2 separate regions of the Homo sapiens genome follow, and region 2 is linked to region 1. The links come from fine-mapping of genetic effects on gene expression. A gene starts in region 1. The other region holds a variant in brackets. All regions are shown on one strand. Distances are between the middles of the regions.

Region 1 (10,739 bases):
CAAACCATATAGATTTAAACCATGGGTTTTGCAGCCGAAGTAGAGACAGATGTTTTCTGGGATCATATCTCAGATTCCCAAGCTAAAGCTATTGTTCAAGGTGATGGAAATATGTAGGGGGCATTAAACCATTTTGCAGCTGCTAGAAAGCTGTGTTTTCCTGTTTTCCTGATTTAGACAATGGAGAAGCTAAGAAGAGAAATAATAGGAAAGGCTTTCCTATGTTAGTTTTAAAAAGACTGTGTTATTTTTAATTCAATTTTTTTTTGTCAAATCTCATCTCTGTTCTCCTAGTTTTCACAGAAATATTTACAGGAATAAAGGTTGAAACAAAAGTACCTAATGATCATCTCCATCCATCGAAAGATTGCTCAGGGATAAGACACTCAAACAAGGGCTTGTGATGAGGATGGAAAAGACAAAGCAACTTGAAGAGAAAAAAAAATTCTTTTAAACTCAGTTCATCCTGCAAAATGGACATAACACATGCATATAAAGGTTTGACTTTTTAATTCCACTTTTTTGCCTGATCGCAGGGAAGATGGCATGTGGCTGGCCCTTCCTGAAGCCTTGCTCCTCCACCACTGGCTAACAGACAGGCCTCCAGGTGGCCTTGCAAGGCCGACAGTGACCGCAGCCCACTTCCCCACATCCTTAATCAGAGCCTCATGCAGTTCATCCCCACATTACCCAAACATAACGTCGTAGTGCTACACGTAGATGTGTTGCATCATGATGCTATGGCAATGACGATGACGCTTAGGTGTGTGGGCCACCGAAGGCAGAGACCAGATGTGGTTGGTCTTGCCTGGAAGCCAAGCTGTTGAGCAGGGGTGGAGTCCCTCTACAGAGGATGCTCACCAAGTTCTAATGCATTGTCGATAACTGTCCTGCCCTGGTTTTTCTGCATTCCTCAGATTATCTGTGGGAATTGTCCTCCTGCATCCTTTCTCAAATGACAAAGAAGAAAGAAAGAGCAGTGATGGCACCTGAAATTCAGGAATGAGTAGGCATGGCGAGCTGGGTGTGTGAGATGTTCTCTCTTTACATTGTCTGCTTTGAGATGTGGGATGAGGGGAGGGAGAGAGTTGGTCCTGAATATATTCAGTTTTTTCCAAGAGTCTCCCAGAATTATTGACCTATTTGGACAACAAATCTTCATTGTCTTGGTGTCCATCTCCAAGTGAAAACTTCCCCCGTCCCCATGGCCCTGGCTTGTTCTGCTGCTGAACAGGTCACCTGGGCAGAAACACTGTGTCTAGCGAGAAGTTAGCAGGTGGCAGGGTGCACCTCTCCCCATACTGTGACCCTTGGATTCCCCACTGTGCCACGCCCGAGCAAGCTGGGGCCCCTCAGGACAAGGACGATTTGTTAATGGCCTCTTGGCCGGTGGGCATTTGTTTACCCACTACTGTAGCCCCAAGATCCCCCAAACAAGAATTTCCATGCTTCAAAGTAACAGCAAAAATAAACAGGAGAATAAAGCACGTGTTTGAGCCCAGTGGTTTCCATCAGATGCACAACCTGAGCTGTCTGGTTGGGTTGCTGGCTCTCCCCCCGTGGTGGGAGTGGTGTGCAAGAGAAAGCACCACCCAGCAGGAGAGGGACCCAGCCTGCCAGGGAAGGTTTTGAGGAACTGGATTCTTTATCACCCATTTCTCCCCTTGTGGGTTCCACAGAGGGGTTCCATGACCTCCCTGTTGTTGAGAACAGGGCTGCATTCAGAGAACAGACGATGGGCCTGGGCTGTGAGAGCAATCAGAACACTGTGAAAATAGGAGGGCTCGTTGGATCCCAGGAATCATACACAGACTGCGTTGGGGCTGTGGGAAGCCAAGGACAGAAATGTCTCCTTCACCCCAAATGATAAGGGCAAGGATTTTCAAGGCCCAGAGGGAGAAATGTTGCATTTGCATTTATTTAAGTGCTGATGTTGGTCAGCAGCGCATCCAGCCATGTCTTTAGAATCCTCTGAATGGCCAGACAGATGGCTGCTCTCCACACCACAGACTGCCCAGCTTCACACATCACCTAGAGTCTCGTGGCCAAGGAAGTTTTGCCAAATGGACACAGCCTTTGTCTCCCTTAAGTGTTAAACACCAGAGTTCCAACTGAAAACTGGAGACCATGAGATGACTTTAAAAAGAAGTTCCAAATGCCCCATCGAGCCGCACAAAACCTCCATCTTTCCTTTCACTTCCCCTGCCCCTTTAGTTTTCTATTAAAAACAATCTGAACCATAGCATCTATATTTCAAAACTGGCAAGAGTATTAACCCTGCACCTTGTGGCCCTTCAACCACTCCAGAGTGTCACCTCAGAGACCGATGCATTGCTAAGGCAAAACCAGAAACACCCTTTCTCTGAGGCTTTGGGGCCTTGGAGGGAGACACATTTCCTCTGTCTGTTCTCCTGCACAGTGGTGGTAAAAAGCCCACAGGAGACATGAGGCCTCCCAGAGATACTCAGGTAACTTCTAGTGACTCTGACCATCGGTGACCCCCAGGAATGTGTTCCAGTGCCCCAGGCAGAATGGTGCCGTGTCTCTGTGTGTGTGTGTGTGTGTGTGTGTGTGTGTGTGAGAGAGAGAGAGAGAGAGAAAGAGTGCACACTATCGACTACATTATCATAGGGAGAAATATTTGCAAATGTAACTTTTAAAATGAGGATATAATTTAAATGGCTTTGAGCAGTTTTTGCTGTAAAAATGATTTTAGTTAGTCATCTCTTTCCCTCTTCCTTCCCTCCTTACCCCCAATTTTAAGGAAAAGAGACAGAGAACAAAAGTTCCTTAAGCAAACTGCCTGACTAGCTCCCTACTTGGTGTGTGCGCCACCCACACTTCAGGATTTAAAATCTCAGGATGCTGCATCAACTGTGGACTATGAACTGTGCTAAAATGCTTTAAAATGACAACTTTCAAAACACAGTGCATCATCTCCCGTTCACACATCCTTTAGGAAACAGCCTGATGGAACTTTCTGCAGGGCTTCCTCTGTCTGAGCTCGGAGCACTGGCATTCCGGGCAGGATGAAGTGGAGGCGGGGCCACAGGCAGGGTGTCTGAGGCCTGCCCTGGCTCAAAGACAGGTTGTCCTTGAATTTGTTTCCTTGTTAGTGTTGATCACATCCGTAGTCAAGTGTGTGGTAACCTCAGTACATTTGGATGAATTAATTCAAGTATCTGTGAACAAATCCCTGGCCTCTCTCGCCCTAGCCCCGTAGATTATGTGACTTCACAAACACCTGTAATGCACTTCAAGCAACTTTTCTCATATTTTTCAAGCTTCCTTTGCAAATAAACCCAAGGCTATTAGAAATGTAAGAACTAAAGAGGCACTTCCTGCCTCCTTGCCACCTAAGAGGTTAATTGCACTTCTGGCCATTCTGGAGGATGTCAACAGTATCACATTTAGCAAGACTTGTGCTGGCGAAATGGAGGAATGCAAATGTAAAGAAATGTTTCCAGTCCGAACATGTTCCCTTTGACCAAAAAACCAGATCTTCTTACCTAATTGAATAATTAATTGATTTAGTTTTCATCCTAGGAAGAGAAACAAATCATTTCAATCCTAATCAGCATGAGCAACTCACCTTTTCCTCTTAGATGGTGGAAGTGAGCAGAGAAGATATTCAGGGGAGCCCCTTAGCCCCGGCCTCCTCACACCCTGATCCGGAATTGGTCACATTGGAATTTGAAAAGGGAGGGGGAGTAACAATCATTATAGAGTCACGAAATCCCCACCGTGGCACGCCAACACACAGCTTCCACTTCAGGAACATCAAACACCCGTAGAAAATACCTGCATGTTCCAAGGGGCCTTTAAGGAGGAGACTTACAATTGTTTGCTAAGATTCCAGTCCAGTCTTTCAAAAAAATGTGGGTGCCCCTTTGGAATGGGGAGTTCAAAGCTCTGAGGATGGTGGCTGGTGACTCTAGTGTCTCTAGGGCCACCTCACTTTCAGCAGTCTGTCCCAGGTGTCGGACTATGGGAAACAAAACAGACAGCGTTGGAAGCCATGGCGCCTCTGTGCCTGCACGTCCCCACCTTGGGAGAGAGCCCCACGTGCGGCCGTGCTGCAGATGGGCAGTATGCTCTAAGGGGGCCCGAGTGCCTGGCGTGGGGGGAGGTTGAGGGGTCAGCTGCAAGGACCAGGGTGTGTCTGCCCACAGGAAACCTGGGCCTGCTCTTGCTGCCACCTCTTTGTACTGTAGTCAGTGCCCCCATGCCTGCCCATCCCCTCCCCCGGTCACTCAGGGCCCCCTTTACCTGTACTGGTTCTCCATGGCCCTGCTCTCAGCTCGCTCTGGAACCCAGGAGTAACTGTCTGCCGCATTCTGGGGCTTCTTCTCCTTCTTCTCCTCCCTCTTCGCTCTCCGCTTGCGATAGACCAGTAGCCCCAGAGCCAGGGCCAGCAGGAGTAGGATGGCCACCACGGTGCCTAGGATGTAGAATAAAAGCAGCTTTTGCCCGTCAGTGCCATCGTTGTTTTGTGTGGCCACGGAGGAGTCCCCACCTGCAGGCTCCTGGGGGCCAGAGGCAGCTGTGGCGTGATGGATGCTGGGCTCCCTCCAGACGCCTGGGGACCCACTGGGGGCCAGCATCTTGAGTGGGGCAGATGTGATGGGGGCGTCAGATGACAGCGAAGGTCTACTTGTGGTGGGTGTAGCCTTGGGGGTGCCCTCGGGGCCCCTTGTGGGACTGGCTGTTGCAGCACGGGGCACGGTGCTCCCTTCTTTCTCTCCTTTGTCCTCCTCATCGGGGGGCCCAGATGGTGGTCCCAGAGACACAGGCCCCATGGTGCAAGAGACCCCATTTGGGGCCAGCACCCAGCCTGGCAGGCAGCCACAGTGGAAGGACCCTTGTGTGTTGAAGCACAAGCTGTCGCAGAGGGGGCCCCCCGGGCCCACACACTCATCCACGTCCTGGCACTGAGTCCCGTCCTCCCCGGCCAGGACGTAGCCCTCCTCACAGGAGCAGTGAAATGAGCCATCTGTGTTGGTGCAGCCCTGGGCGCAAGGCGAGCGACCCAGAGCACACTCATCCACATCCTGACAGGCCCCCTCTCCAGGACCGCCCGGCTCATAGCCAACCCAGCATTCGCAGCGGAAGCCCCCAGGGGTGTTGACACACTCCTGGGCACAGGGGGAGTCCTGGCATTCATCCACGTCCACACAGTCCAGCTGACTCGAGTCCAGCTGGTACCCTTGGGGGCAGCGGCACGTGTAGTTTTTCCCATGGGGTCCCAGGACGCACGTGGCCCCCCCACGACATGGGCTGGAGCTGCAAGGGTTTCGAGAGGCACAGGTCACCAGGTCATCCAGCAGCCGGAATCCTGGTCGGCAGCCGCAGAGGAAGGAGCCATCCCCCCCTTCAAAGCAGTCCTGGTGGCAGCCCCCATTGTTGAAGTTGCAGCCATACTTGGGGCTGACACAGAGGGGGCCCGAGCTGCCCCAGTCGAACACATCGGGGGCCTTCTCCTTGCACAGGAAATAATGACTCTGAGTCTCGTCCTTGTCACCTTCCCCACAGGCTACATTGGCCGCAGAGGCAAAGGGCACAGCCTCCAAGGAGGAACTGGTGGTCTGGAAGGGGGTGGTGTAGGTCACCTGACCTGGGCCCCCCAGGGCCAGAGGCCGGCACATGCCTTTGAAGCTGAACTTGCACACGAAGCCCTCAATGTTACTTCCGGGGGAGCCTGGGCTCCCACAGGGGCCCTCAGACCACTTGGGGAGGCGGCTGGGAAGGAGCGGCTGGGACAGGTCCAGCAGCAGAGACACACAGCGCTTGGAGATGCACGAGTTCCGGAGCTCCTTGTGCCAGTTAGAGTAAGGCGTGTCCTCCCCCCCGCCCACCCAGCTGAAGCCCTTCAGCGGCAGACTAGGGTCCAGGCACTTGCCCTTCTCTCGCTGGAGCCCAATCCAGAACTTGCTCATCCTCGCCGTCAGGGCTGCCTCCCGCCTCAGGAGCTGGGCCAGTACTCGCTGGACGTGCTGGGCCTCCTCCTTGCTCTTCACAGTGGCCAGGTTGCCCCCGTTCTGGTTGCAGTGGTTCTGGGCCTCGGCAGCGCTCAGCTTGCCCGAGTGGGCCGTGTAGCAGGCGGTCCCCACGCAGACCACCGCCTCCGTGTCAGCTCCCGTCCCCGCCCCGGGCTGGGTCAGGAGCAGCAGCAGCAGCAGCAGCAGGCCCATGGAGGTGGCCATCCCGGTCTCTGTGTGGCCCTCTGCGGGAGGCGAGAAGCCCAGCGGCGACAGGAGCTTCTATCTCGGCTCCCAGCTGGGCCCCAAGGGGAGCTGAGGGGTGAGCTGCAGCCACTCCGGCGCAGAGAAGGACACAAAGGCTGAGGGCTTTCCACGTCCCCCTGACCCAAGGCGCATCCTGTACTGTTGTACTTCTTATTTCTCACCGGATGTTGGGGCTTCCTGCAATGAATAGTTCTCTGACTCCTGCTGCCTTCATCACGGTGCTGTTGTTCATAAAAGGAGTCAGGCAGCTCTGCCGGGTCCCTGGCTCAGCACTGTGGAAACAGCGACGGGGGGAAGACGTTACAGCCCCGAGATACTGCCGGCTTGATTTTGGCTCCATTCTCTTTCTCATGGCATGAGGAGCCTCGGAGGCATGCCATGGAGTGAGCAGGGGCTTTGGGGGCTAGGAACTCGAGGAAGCTCCCTTAGTAACCCATAATAAAATTCCACTTTGGTTTGCAAACCACCAAAAGAGAAAAAAAAAATTCTGAGACTTAAGACACAAGGCCATGGATGGTTATAATTTTCAGCCTTTTTTAGAAGCAAACTGGACTTTCCTTTTGCCTAGCTCATGTTCTCTGTTGACTTTGGGAGCCTTTTTTCTTTTATCCTCCCATCGTGAACCTTAAATAGACAGGCATTTTTTAAATAGGATACGGGTCGTGGGAATGTCTGGGTTTTCAACATAATGCCAAGCTCCTCGATAATGTTAATCCAAATTGGGTGAAATTTGGCAGTTCTGGGGGTTTCATAGTGGAAATATTGCATTGTGAGGTGTCAGGGTCACAAAAAGCATCAGAAAGAAAATGAAAATGTGTCCGGCCTCGTGGCGCAGGGCTTGCAGGCTCACTTCCCCCGGCTCAGGATTCCTAGCAAGGGCCGGAAATCTGGGCAGGGAGCGGGAATCGAAGCCCGGGCAGGCCCTCCCGCGACACCGCGACTCGGCAAAAGCCAGGGACTCACAGTGTGCTTTTCCTGCAGCCACAGACCTTTGCTCATTGGTTGGGATCCCCCAGGAGGGGACCCTGAGACAGGATTTGGGGAGACTAGTTTATGTGGGAGGGGAAGTGAAACAGACAAGGAGGAAGCCAACCCATGATGACTTGCTGAGAAGGTGACCCTGGGCTGCTGGAGCCAGTGCCAGGAAACTCTGGGGGCCTGAGGGGACCACACCTCAGCACCATCTCAGCTGAGGGAGAGGCTCCACTGCTCTCCAAGTCCCCTGTCATTGGTAGCAGGCTGTATCTCTCACTTTGAGAGACTGACTATAAATTCTAGCCCTGCCCAGTGACCAGGGGTCTCTCTCACATAAAACTTGTTTCTATGGACAGACACCCTTGTGGCTCTCGTCTGACCCATGTCCAGTTTATTCCTATCAAGACAGCCACTTCCTAAGAGATCCCTGATGGGAGGAGAGTTGGGTTGGGGTGTGGGTCAGGGGAGATGCAGGAGGCAGCACAAGAAGACACAGGAAGCAACACAAGCACCGTGTCACTTACAGATCCCAGGGAGAGGGCAGTGCACCCCACGGGGCCAGCAAAAAGTGGGGAGCTGTCTGGGTCACAAACACTCACCTGGAGGGGGGTGAAGGGAGAGAGAGAGACCTGGGTCCTAAGCCTTTATTGGGGTCCAGGACGTTTCCCAAGCAGGTTTCCCAAGGGGACTTCTCACTGGTGGGTTTAGAGCAAACAGACACGGGCTCCGTGGGGTCCCTGTGGCTGAGAGGTGGGCATGGCGGCATGTCTGGGAAGTCCCTGTGGGGTGTGGAGTCACTGAGACCATCAAATGGGCTGTATCTGCCTGTCCCACAGGGAAATGGTCACCAGGAGGTGGGTGTACAAGGCAGATATCTGGGTTGGCCGCATTGAGGAACTGGGAGGGGGTGGAGCCCTAGACACCGTGTCAAGAGCAATAAACCCTGCTTCTGGTAGGAGAGGGTCCAAATTAGATTCAAAATGGATGCAATGCACAATTATAAGAATTCTCTACACAGCGGCAACTCTTTGGTGCTCTGCACTGACCGTGAGGGCCCCAGGGGAAGAAGCGCCACGGTGGAGAACACAGTGAACGCCTGTGGACCCGGCACCAGCGACCACCACAGTGGCCTCCATGGAGATGTTGAGTTGTCCCGGGGGCTAGGAGCTCGCTGGCTCCCCAAGGGACAAGGAGGCATCTCTGACTCCAGCTGGATACCTCCTAAGAATGTGCCTTAAGTCCTTGCATTTTAGCAAAGATATTTGAGACATTTTGGGAACTCTCCATAGAAGCCACCAGACCCTCCCTGTGCCCCTTCATTCATCCATCTGTTTGTCCATCCACCCATCTAACAATTGTTGATTAAGACCCTGCTATGCACTGAGTGAGGCACTGGATTCCAGGAGGGGATCCCTGCCTCTGTGATCCTGGAGTCCTGTTAGAGTGGACAACTTTGAACAAGTCACGGCACTGATGGCTTTATTGCAGGCAGCACAGGGGAGCGGGGAGGTCGTGGTTGATACAGGGGTGGCATCCTGACTGGGGGATGGGCAATTAGGAGAGACTCCTCTGGAGAAGACAGGCAGTCAAGCCGGAATCTAAAGGAGAAGCAGCTCAGATGTGGAATGGTGTCGGGATGGGGGAACAGCATGTACAGAAGCCCTGGGGACAGAGAGTGAGTGAAGGGCAGGGAGACCAAAGCCCAGGCAGTGGGAGGGAGGATGCAGGGGAAGATGGAGCCCTGTGAACCCCAGTAATGAAGGCTTGAGGCTTCGTCTTGAAATCCACGGGGAAACACTGAGGGCTGGCATGAGGCCTACATGTGGAAGGGGACTGGTCAGTGGACCCAAGCAGTGGGTGGGGGGGCCCTCAGCAGGTGGCCGCAGGTTTCCAGGCTGTGGAGTCCAGGTCAGATGTTCTCGGGGCTGGGTGGAGGTGGGGGGAAGGGCACCGGGCACGCAGAAGGACTGCATGGCTCCTGCCGGGAGCTGGGGTCCTGGAAGGCTGTGTCCGCTGGAGGTACCTGGTTCTGAGAACACAGGGGATTGCCTCTTGGGGCTCAGGGTCTCCCAGACCCCCTGTCCTTGTGACCTGCCTCCTCGGGACGCTAAGTGTGCCACCAGAGCTGGGTAAGCAGCCAGCTGTGAGGGGTCCAGGGAAGGCTGGTGTCCCTGGCTCCCAGTCAATATAGCTGGCCATGCATTTGAGTTTGGCAAGGGTCAGTCTTGTTCTCTGCTTGGGAGAAGCTTCATTTCTAAGGGTTTATTTACAAGCAGGTAACTTCTTAACATTCTGTAAAATCAATTCTGCAGCCCTAGCATCCACTCATAGCAGGGAGCCGTTCTCGTGGTCTAGGCCCCTGTTTGTGCAGCTCGGAGGTAGATTCCTCAGAGGTAGATTGTGATCTGCAGCATTCGCTCAGCATTCTACTTAGTTGGTGCTTAAGGATATGGGCTAAATGAGTGACTTTCAGCATGTTAGCCACTCTGACCCCCAGATCTTTGTCAAGATATCTTCTTTAGCTGTAAGTTATTCATCTTCCATGTGGGAACTTTCAAACCAATTACTGTTCACTTAGCCAAGTGATGACATCTTAAAGAAGAAAATGAACTAGCAAGACATATACTCTGTTTTTTATCCATTAACCTTGGAAGTATTTGTAAAGCACCAACAGTGAGAAAGACTATGTAAAATGCAGAAACTGCCTTGCCCTGGGGGTCCTTGGATTTTACTTTATTATTTTCAGTAACTTGGTTAACTCAGCCCCACTTCTCATCTATAAATGCAGAGGTGGGAACAGGGCCTCTGGAAACTTTCTTGCTCTAACATTAATAAAAGTGAAATCATGCTTAACTCTCCCCTCTGGAATTAGGGAGAAAGCAAGTTGGGAAGAGAGTGGACACTGAGACCATTGCTGAGCCCTCGACATACTGCACATGTAAGCAAACCTCTGTCTAAACTGCACACACCCAATTTCATCCCAAATTGACCCGCTGACTGCCAAGACACAGGGTAGTTTCCTATTCCTTGTCCCCCACATCTGACTTCCACTGTGTCCCTTCACCCTTTGGCTGATCCCTGCTGGGCTCAGGTGGGTTAATTCACCTGGGACACTTACAGCTAGGTTCTCTAGCTCCAGCCCCGCCCTTCTGTGTCCGCTCCCACCTATAGGGGACGCTCCTTAGAGGCTGTTCAGGGGATTCGTAGAGGCTGAGGGCATGGTGCTTCGACCTCAGGGGAGGATGAAGAGCTTGCTTTTCCTGGGAGGGATTTGGTGGAGTTTTACAAAGAATTTAAGATAGTCTGAATGCAAACTTTGAGGGAATTCTGCACCTCACATACTAAATTCCCCATGGATGGTGTTTCATCCCATTTTATTTAGAGAGCAGATTATACCAGACCTCTCCAAGGACCGATACTTAAACAGCAGGAATCAGCAGAAGGAGATGGAAAAAGTTTTTCTCGGCAGATCTTTGGACGGAAGCCACGTTAGGTGTTCTAGAACCATGGCGAGCCTAA
Region 2 (10,739 bases), 38 kb after region 1:
GAATGGAGTATTCAAGCCCTGCCCAGACCTCCCTTGGGCCACAATTTAACAAAAAATATTCCCTAGCAGTGGCTGCATGCCACTCTGTGTTGTACCTTGTACCTGGTGGAAGGCAGGGCCTGCCTTGCCCTGGCATGGGGCCTGCAGGCTTTAGGGCAGACATCCTCTGTTGGAGTGGTGGGCAAAGCAGAGGGCACCCTGGCTGCATTAGGTGGGAAGTCCGGTGAGGCAGATGAGGGGCTGGTATGAATGGCAACTCACTTGAGAAATTAGAAGCAAGAGGCCTGGAGTGAATATATCGTCAGTCTGAAGGTGACCAGCGGAGAGCTAGAGCTCTAACACGAGCGGGCCCTTGGGGAAATGCCCGTGAGAGGACAGCAGGGGGATGCCGCAGGAGGGGCAGTCCCTGAGCCCACGCTGACAGAGGCTTTTCTCAGAACAGCTGCAGCTGGGGTCTGGGCAGGAAGGAGCTCCAAAAGGTGTCCCTCAGGCTCTTCACTCTCTTCTCAGGCACCCAGGGCCCCCTGCTTTGGAAAAATCACCCCACACTCATTCACACTAGAGTTTAAATGACTTTCTGGGTAAAGAGTAAAATGCCGCAGCCCAGTGAATGAAATTCTATGTCATGATGAATGCATCAGCAAAGACCAGCGGGGAGAAGAGTTTGATGCCAGGAAGCTTGGCCCTCAAATCACTCACAGCCCTAGGGGAGAAGCTGGCTTTGGGAAGAGGTGTTACAAACCCACTCATGACCGAGCCTCTGACCAAGAACCCTTCGTTGTCAGGTGTTGCTGTGTAGCAAACCTCCGCAGTCCTCAGACACACATCCAACAACATCTGCTTTACTCACAAATATGCCATCTGGGCGGGGCTCATGCAAGCTCCTGGATCCCTCACCCAGCATGTGGGCTGGAGCAGCCGAGGCTCCTCAGGCATCTCTCTCCATCTCCCTGTGGTCTTGACACATGCACTCTCCAGCGTGGCAGCCTCAGGGTGCTGGACCTCTGACTGTCAGCTCAACACCATCACCCGCAGCCCATGCCCCGAGAGATCGGGCAGAAGTTCCATGCCCTCTACGGCCTGGCCTTGGATGTTGTGCAGCATCACTTCCACCACAGTTTGTTCATTGAAGCAGCACAAAGGTCCCCCGGGGGTATGAAGGGAGGGGACACAGTCTCTGCTTATGATGGGTGGTGGCGAGGTTCAAGAGGGGCACGTGGGGCCAGAAATATTGCTGGGGTCAGCGTTGAGTAATACCGTCTGCCACCGCCTTGTTCTCCATTGCCAAAACATAAAACACCTTAAACCCTCCCTGGGCTTTCCCACATGCTGGGCTGGGTCCATGCTCCTCCCTCTCCTTTCAAAAGAGTGGTATTTGTAGGTCTATATGCAAGCACATAGCCAGTCTATCATCTCTATACATCATCCCTGATTTGACAGTCATCCCAAAATGTCATTGTTATGGTGTCCATTTTGAAGATGAGCACACTGAGCTCCCGCAAAGCCAGGTAACTTGCTGGAGGCCACACAGCTAGAGAAGACCTGACCTCCAGCTGTGCGACAGCCAAGGCTACACTGTTTGGCTCACATACTTCCTTATTTTGTTCCGCATGAGAAAAAGGGCAGAAGGAGCCATGTGGGGTCACTCAGGAGACTGAGGGTGCACCAGAATTCTGCAATGGGGGTGACCTGGCTGTTGGGTCCAGTCCTGTAGGAGTTTCCCGTGCTCACTCCTGCCCTCAGGCTGCAAATGCGCCTTGAGTGCCCATACAGTGCCAGACCCTTCTTCAGGCTCTGGGGTCCTTCAGGAAAGGGACTAATGCACCCCGACTTCCTGGCCCTGCCCCTCTCCCTCCAGCCTTTTTGGTAGGTCCACCCATTTTAAGCTTCCTTCCTGTGCCTGGAACAATGACATGTTCTGTGCTGAGTGTACAGCCCGAGAAGTCCCAACCATCACAGGCCAGAGTTACAGAAACTGAGGATCTGTTGGGAGGGACGTCTGTCTACCCAGAGCCAAGGCGCTCATTGTTCCCACATCTCCTAGAGCTGGGCTCTGCGCCTCTGCCCTGCCCAGGCCTGCCTGCCGCAGCCCAGGCTTACCAGCTCCCAGCCTGCAACATCCTTGCTCCTGAGCCCGCTGCTTCCTTGAGCACTGGTGTTGAGGTTTGCTAGAGCCGTTCCATGCTCTTCACATCCCCCTAGACCCCGGGTGCTGCGTGCAATGACATAGAGGAGGTTGGCTGGGACCCTCCCTCAGCACCAGATCCACAGATGGATGAGTATCCCTAGGGCTCCCTCAACTCAGCATGGCTGAGCCTGATTCCCTCCGGACGGTCCGCACACACCATGTCCCCCTTTCCTCCACCTCCTACACTTCAGCAAACCCCATGCCTTCGTCCATCCCCAAATGTCCATTTCTTGCCACCAGCACTATGCCCTCCTCCCCAGACCACCCCAGTCCCTTGCCTAGGCTGTGGCAGCAGACACCTGATGGTAGCCCAGTTGCCCCTTGCCCTGTGTGGTGTGGCTGCAGAGTGACCCCTTTCTCAGTGCAAATCAGATACTAAGACACCCAAAGTAAGACCTCCCCTGGCCCGCTTTACGCTGCAGTGGCCATGCTTCTGTCCTCCCCTGCATGGCCACAATCCGGTCCTCTCCCTGCCCTTTCCTTCCTTGTCTCAGGTCAGCTTTGGGATGGGGTGGGATGGGGTGGAGTATCTGCAAACTAAGTTGAGCCCCAAGCACCTGACCATACACAGAGCAAAGACTGCAGGGTTCTTTCTGGCCTCTGGGCCCCTGATGTCTCCAACTTGAGCCTTGCGAGGGCAGGTTCCAGTTTTTCCAACCTTGCCTTTCTCAAGAAGGGTTCTGCCATGATTCACAACTGCCCATTGAAGGACAAGGTTCCCAGAGGCTCTTCCACTGCCTCCTGCTTGGCTAGGGAGAAGCACGCGTGTGGGGAGAAGCATGCGTGTGGTGGTAGCCGACAACTTGTCGCCAGCAGGGACCCTGGGCTGGGAGCCCACTGGTTGGTTTTGCTCACCTTCTGCACAGCACAGCTATTGCAGGGCTGGCACAGGAGAGACCCTCAGGAGACATTTGCTGATTAAATAATTGACTCCCATGACACTCCCAACTCCTTAGGGCACACTCTCTTCTCAGCCACCACCCCCCGCCCCCAGCCAAAACCCGCTAACTTTGTTTGGATTCCACCAAAGCCACAGTCTGGGCTCTGTCCTGCCTCACTCTGTCTCCCAGCACAAGCAGCCTAGACCTCAAGCACCTTCCTAGAGCACCGACTTCTTGCAGCTTTCAGGACCTGCTTCTGGTTTCCTCCTACCCTGCACCCCATCCCCCCCTCCATCTCTCAAGCTGCCCCTTATCTTGCCAGATGAGGAGGTTCACCACAGAAATCAGCAGATGAAGAAGTAGATACATGAGAAACTTGCCCCAAATCCAAGAAAGCAGACTTTCCTCTCGGAACTAGCCCCCTGCGCCTGGATGTTGTGCGGCAGGCCTTGTTTCTGTCGGGCAGATGGCTCCTGGGTTCCTCCCCTCCTGCCCCCCGCATGCCCCGCCCCACCCCCAGGACTGCTGTCACCAGGCATGTGTATCCACAAAAAGATGCTTGCCCAGCGCCCCTGTGCGTCCCATGCCTGAGCAAGAAGCTGCACTTCCTCGGGCCTCCCAGCTCTGGAACCTGCTGCTGGATGCCTCTTATCTGAATTGTGACTCCTCAAGAGATAAGAGCCTTTTTCTTAACAGAAAGGCAGGAGTTTGAAGCCTTCTGTATCCTGCATCTCTGAGCTCAGGCCTCCCGAGAAGCAGGAGCCGACTTCCAGCGGAGAGCACTGCTGCTGAGACCTGCCTGGTGGTCAGCTTGGGCTGGTGAGCCAGGGCCAGGCACAGGATGGTGGGGGTGGTGGGGGCTGCAGAGGGGGAGGGTGGTAGCCTGGAGGACCTGCTGGGCTTGCAGGCCCCCACCTGTCCTGGGGAACTGAGCAGAGGTCACGACGGCAGGACAAAGCCCCTTCTGAGAGAAGGATCTGAATCCATTCCTCGCTTCCAGGTTGTTGTTATTTTTGCTGTGCTTTTGATGACACCAGCACTGCCTCTCTACGTACAGCTGATTAGCAACCCTGATGATGACATTTACGGGGTGTTCATATGTCAACTAGAGCATCTACGTGTTCCTGTGGTTTTGGAGCAAGAGTGATTTGAGTTTCAGAGATTTTTACTAATTCTTCTTCCCCTACCAGAAAAAAAGATCTTACCATTTGAGAGTGAGATGTAAACCCAGCCCTGTCTGACCTGAGTCTGTGCCCTAAGCCTATGCTAAGCCAAGCAGTGCCTGGAGCCACCACAGGTCCACACAATTCGTTAACATGATGAAGCAAGGATGGAAATTGGACAAAATAGTGTGCCTACTGAATCTAAGAATGAAAAATGATTGCACTCCTACTCTGAGTGCTTTGGAGCACTGCCCAGTTGGGCAAAGGGTCAGCGCCTGGGCAGAGGTCCCCACAACCTGGCAGGAGTGTGGTCGGCCACCCTATGGGCCTCCATCATGTGCAGTGACAGCGGGGCTGTCATGTCACCGTGTGGGAGGGCTTGCAGGTGAAGTGGTCTGGGAGGGGTCCCCCAGACAAAGCCAAGGTTCTGAGAGTTGGCCCGAACACTGCTGGATTCCACGGCGGGGGCTTGGGACAGCCGGACTCAGAGACAGTAGGAGGTGACAATGTATATACATCACAATGATCACAATATAGCCCCACACGTGCCTTCCCCACCAACAGTCAGCTTGCCATGTCCCTTCCCCGACATCCCCATCTTAGTCCCAACACAGAGGCTCCCTCTGCCCTGTGTCTGTTTAGCCAGGATGCCACGGTTCTTCCCCCTTCTCCCATGTCCTCCTCCACACACCCTTCAAGGGCAACCCCAGAGATTTCTCCTCCATGATTTCTAAAGTCAGTGGTAAATCTGTTCCTCTTTAAAATCTCATCACACTGTTCACCACTTCCCCTATAATACAGTTCCGCATGGCCACGTCATACAACCCTGTCATATTGGTGAGCAATTGCTGTGTAGCCAAAGACCCCAAAACTCAAACAGCATTTATTATTATTGCCCCCATGTCTGAGAGTCAGATGTGCATTTGCTGATCTCAGCTTGTTTGAGCTGCTGCAGGGTTGGGGCTCTGCTCCAGGCAGGCTTAGCTGTCACCACATGCACACATACATTCTGGGCCTCTGCTGTGCGCGTCACGTTCACTGAAGATCTTGGGATTGGGAGTTAGGGCGGTGGGAGGGCCCAGCAAAGTCACCTGGCGATGGCAGGGACACAGGGAGGAATGTAGAATGGGGCCGATGATGGGACCCACACGTCTGCAAAGCTGCGGTCTCCTTGAGGGGTGGAGACAGCAACAACTCACCGCACGCGGTGCTTCAGTTCACCATCTCCCTGGGACATTAGGGGTCCCCGTGTTATCTCATTTTGCTCTGGTTTGCATTAGTTTTTTATCACTTCGTAGATGAAGCCACTGACACCCAGAGAGGGAAAGTGGCCTGACCAAGGGCCACAGCAGGGGAGCGAAGGAGCCCCACAGTCCGGCAGGAACACAGCCTCTCCCTGGCTTTCAGGTTCACTGACATCTTCTCATGGCCTCTGTAACTCACCAGGCATCAGGGTGTAGTCCTTAGACCAGTGTCCCACAGCTGCCACAGAGTGGGAGCTCACCATCAGTTATAAGTCACTAGAAAGGCTTTTGGACATTATAAGCTACAATGGAAAATAAGTCATCTGTGGATTTTTGTGACAGATTCCAAAAATTTGAATATTTTGTCTACTTAGGTTTTTGGTTAATTTTATCCTCAAAACTGTTCTGCAGTGATTAAGCTGTACAAACTGCACCATGGGCGAATTGGCATATTCAGAAATGACTGATATTCTTGATTTCAGTTTTTTACTTTGTATGTAGCTCCTCAAGGAAACATCATGTAACTTGATTCCCTGGGAAGGTCCAGTGCATGGCACGCATGGGCCAGAGGCCACTCTCCTCCATCCGTAGACCACACGTGTGGACAAGCCCCCAGCATGCCTAGAGGAGCAAGGCCAGGGCTGTGCATGCTGAGGCGCCCGTGGCCAGTGTCAACAGGAAAAACTAACTCCGCCAGTTGTACACGTCAGCCAGGTGTGGGGTCATGCATTTCTCAACCCTCGGGGACTCCTCAGGATGGGATGGAAGATGTGTAGGTAGATTTTGAAGAAACTGCAGATGGTGTTTCAGAGAGACGGTAGAACCATCCATCTCCACTGTAGCCCAGGAATAAAACTGTGCAGCTTGACATCCCCTCTCCCATTCAGGAATAAAAAGGAACAAACAACTGATACACACAACATTTGAATCTCAGAATCACTATGTGGAGTGAAATAAGTCAGATACAAGAACATCTGTATGATTCCAATCACATAGAATGAAAATTAACCTCTAGTGGCAAAAAGCTGGTCAATGGTAGCCTGGGCCCAGGAGTGAGAGGGGCCTGTCTGCCAAGGGGCACGGGGAACTTTAAGAGGGAGCAGAGATACACTGTGGCGGTGCTGCCAGGGCCCCTTAATAATGCACTGTGAATGTGCGCTTTGTGAGACAAAGTAGTAAACATAGGAAACCAC[G/A]TTTGCTCATTTGTGCTTGGCAGCAGAATTTCACAAAGTGCCTGTCTCTATAACGATGTGCAGCTCCCCAGAAAGATGCTCTGAAGACAAAACAGGATGGAGCACACACCCTCTCCGGACTCTTGCCTGAGTCACTATATTCTTTGCAGATAAATGGCCCTGGTCTTACCTTTTCCTACACGTAAGATAACATCTGACAGGGTCAGTGATTATTGCTCTGTAATTGAATCCATAACCTGATGCACTCTGACACCCAAGCTTTCATGTGACTTTGCACGTACTGGACCTCCCACCTATATGTCAACTGTGACCTGAAATACAGAACCTCAGTGGAGGCTGCTCCAGGGCTCTACGCCACAGCCTGTAGTCCTCGGTAAGCTTCTGAAGAAGACGAACTTTAATTCTTTAAAAGCTTGACAATAACTTTAAATGGATATGATTTATTGCCTGTAAATTATCCCTCAATAAAGTTGATAAGGATAAAAAGAAAAACTCTGTGATCTGGACACAGAACGAGCAGCCCTGGGTTATCTTTGCATTCTAGAAGGGGCCTAATATTTGTGTTAGTAGCAACAGCAGTGATGGCTGGAAGCCAGATTGTGCTTACTTGCACCAGGTGCTGAGCTGGGCACTGTATGCATCGGAGGAGGGGCATGGTGGCATGCTAATAGACCTTTATTTACAGTAACAGGCAGTGGGGTGGGTTCGGCCATGGACAGAGGTTTGCAGACATCCCAAGTTAAGGCACTCTGGCAGGTGTGCCTGGCGGGTCTTGGGAGCTGGGCCTCCAGAGGTTTGTGCTGACAAAAAGGCCAATGACCCCTCCTCCTGGCATTCTTGTGGGGATGGATGTGATGGGGTGTGGCACACAGTGATCAGGCCAGGTAACGGTGACTGAGACGCAGGGAAAAGGTGTTTCATTTAAGAAGGGTCGAGGTCAGTCTCCCCTCAGACCCAGCTTCCCTTGAGCCAGCTCAGTCCAAAGAGCACGCTGCCCTTCCTTCCGCACACTGGAGCACGCAGCCCTGGACCCACATTTCTCAACAGGAGCAAAAAAAGGAAGTCGGGAAGAGAAGCACAAAGCCAGTGAGTGAGGACTGGGCTTGCAGCACCCCCAAGGGCTCCCCAGGGAGAGGGTGGTTAGAACATCTGTGAGATTGCAGTCTAGGGTGACTCAGTGGAGCAACTGTCAAAGGTGCTAAGCTGGGATTTCTCAAGGCCCATCTTCCCCAGAGCTCCTCCCAGCCACAGACCCACAAAGGGCCTCCCTCATGGGTCTCAGTTACACCAGCTTCTCCCCACAGCACCAACAATCCTGTCAGCTTCTTCCCAGGCAGCAGCAGGCCTCACATCCCCACCAAAAGGGACACCATTGTGATAGCCTGGGCTGCAGAGATGCACGCCCTGCAGGGACAGCTGTAGGTCTTGGCACAGATACAGTGGCCTGGGCTAATCTTGAGCTGGGCCTTTGCCTCCTGGGTTACTGATGAGAAGCTCTGAGGCTGAGGCCAGTGGATGCCCCCCAGACCTCTCCACTCTCCCCAAGCACCCAAGGCCAGTTCTATGACTGTCCTGGTGAGTGCCAGATGCAGGGAAAGTGGCCCCCTGTGTGGGGCAGGTGGCTTCTGCATTTCTGATTAGGGGGCCAGGAAGGAGGCATTCAGGAGAAAACACCAAGTCAGAAAAAAGGTTCCCAGGACTGGGGACGAAAGACTCAGAAGGAGGGGAAAGAGGAAGAAAGCTGTAGGGGAAGGGAAGGGAGGGGGATGAGAAAAACGCTGGGGAACACCACTGAAGTTACTTCAAGCTAGCAACACTGGACGCTCAGGTCTTCTGTTGCATGGGTTACCGGGTTACATGCCAAGGGCTCAGTGGCTGCCTGTGGCTGGTGGCTCCTGTACGGGACAATGAAGATACAGAACTCGTCCATCATCACAAAAAGTACTACTGGACGGCACTGGCAAAGCCTAACCACATGTAAACTTTACTCAGGACATGAGGGGTTCCTGGCCTTCCGCCCCCACCCCCGGGAGCCTGGGGCCTTGGGTTTAGGCTGTCACTCAAACCCAGGGTCTCCCCACCTCGCCACTGTGGGCATTTGTGGCCAACCACTGCCTGTGATAGGGACTGTCCTGGGCACTGTAGGGTGTTGAGCAACAACCAAAACCTATCAGATGTCACCCAGTGTCACCCTGTTGACAGCCACTGCTCTAAATGGAAACAATGTGGCTTTGGGGTGAAAGGGGACCTGGGGGAAGTCTGGATCTGTCTCCAGAGCTTGGAGCTCCCGTGGGCCTGGCAGACGCTGGGGGTCCAGGGTCACAGGCTGAACCTGAGATGTTCCAACAGGAGGGGCCTGCCTGAGGGCCTGGGCTCAGAAATGAGGGGGCAGGAGTACATGCAGAGGGGACCCCTGCCTAGGGAGCTCAGGTCCTGCCTTGCAGGGACCTGAGGGGCCAGGCTGGAGGGAAGAAAAACTAGAGACCAGAAGATTCTAGAACACCAGATACAGCTATAGCAGAAGGCAAGGGGACTTAGAGTGATTTGGGCACTAGGATCAGGGCTGATGCGGGAGGGCAGGCAGGAGTGCTGGGGGGTTGCCTTGGTGGGGTTCGGGGAGGGGACTGAGCTGGGGTCAGGGACAATCAAGAATTCCTGGAGGGCAGCAAAGTAAAGAGGTTAAGCTGAGAGGCAAGGAGGCATCAAAGGAAGCGAAGAGGTGGGGACCAAGGGGACCCCAAGGAGTCAGGACTGAGGGGGCTGCCTGAGTGGGAGAAGAAAGGAGTCTGGGCCACAGGATTCTGAGGAATCTCACTCCTGAGTTGGGACCAGTGGGAGCCATGAGCCTGGGAAGAAAAGGGGCCCTGATGCGGGGCCAGGCCTGGGCTGGAGATCAGAGCCAGCAGGCCTCACGGAGCAGGATGTGAGCAGGGGGCACAAAACGCAGGGAAACCCAGGGGCTGTGGGCCACTAAGGGCTGGGGACAGCACATCAGGGCCCTTGGCCTGGCCGAAGCACAGCCAGGAGGTTTAACTCCAGGTGGAGTGGGCAGAGGTTGGTACTCGGGTCACATGGGCATGGCAGTTAGTACATGGACCCGGAGATGCCTGGACTGGGGCCTGGGCACTGGAAGTTAGAATGGGGGACTTTGGTAATGGGGATTGGCCAGGGAGGAGCTGGCATCGAGGGGCCACAGGAGACAGAAACTAGGCAAGGCAGCTTGACCTCGGCCCGCTGGGAATCAGGGGTCTAGGAAAAGGAGGAGTTTGGCGTGAAGGTGAGAGGCACGGGTTCCAGGGCACATAGCCCTTGTCAAGGGTGGGCCCATGGCTGTGGAAGGGAGTGCTGTGGATTATTGGACACTGGGCAGGGAGAGGCAGGGTCCAAGACAGCCAGGCTCTGCCTTGGCTGGGGCCTAAGTAAGGGTTTGGGGACCCAAGAGAGGTCTGTAGGCTGGAAATGAGCTGGACAGGCCAGAGTTACAGGGCCTAAAGCCTGGGAACAGTGACCGGGCTGAGGGATGGGGCAGGCTGGCCCTGGGAGGCCGAGGGGTCCAGGGGTTCCATGCACTGCAGGTCACCCTGCTGCATGGATAGATGGTGAATGTGGTTTTGGCATGGGCAGTGGCACAGCGGGAAGAAGACTGTGAAGCCAGCAGCAGGGACAGCCACGAAACCCTCAGCCTGCTCAGCATCTCCCCCTTTCCTCCGTCATCCTGGTTGGTGGCAGCCCCTCCGCCTCATCTCTGCATGGGGTGGGGGGGTAACTTTATATTATGAACTAATCATCATGAGAACCCCATAAGGAAGACCATATGGTTATCCCCCTTGCACAGATATATTGAGTCACTTACCCAAGATCACACAGCTAATTAACACCAGCGCCTAATTCAAACTCAGGCAGCCTAGTTCTGAGGCAGCGCTATTCAATCAATATGCACTTAGGGAACAGGCGGCCAGGAAGTGCAGGTGGGCCCCACCCTTACCCCTGCTCTGTGCTGAGGCCGCTGCCGAGCTGTCTATTCAGAGTCAGCTCCTCTGGTGCTGGAAGATGCTGGCACTCAGTGCTCC

Direction of the effects. Alleles are on the strand shown, and positions count from the first base shown. SD is a standard deviation of normalised expression in the study named.
For the expression in follicular helper T cells of the gene that starts at base 6,335 in region 1, allele G in region 2 goes with a lower level than allele A (large effect, 1.1 SD a copy in Schmiedel 2018).

What was found.
Region 2: its variant is fine-mapped to the expression of CD93 in follicular helper T cells (Schmiedel 2018, PIP 0.95). The same link has a PIP of 0.9 or more in Th17 cells and Th2 cells.

The regions. Positions count from the first base shown.
Region 1 is chr20:23,079,990-23,090,728 of GRCh38, forward strand. CD93 (CD93 molecule) reads right to left here and starts at 6,335. Exons shown (of 2, transcript NM_012072.4): 1 at 4,270-6,335; 2 at 1-3,985. The coding sequence starts at 6,203. The coding sequence ends at 3,961. RefSeq lists enhancers at 6,319-6,498, 8,026-8,165.
Region 2 is chr20:23,117,975-23,128,713 of GRCh38, forward strand. LINC00656 (long intergenic non-protein coding RNA 656) reads right to left here. Exons shown (of 4, transcript NR_034149.1): 3 at 10,655-10,739; 4 at 7,094-8,564. Among named protein-coding and RNA genes, the nearest start is that of LINC00656, 9.3 kb to the right of the region's middle. RefSeq lists an enhancer at 285-464. The variant G/A (reference allele first, on the strand shown) is at 6,670.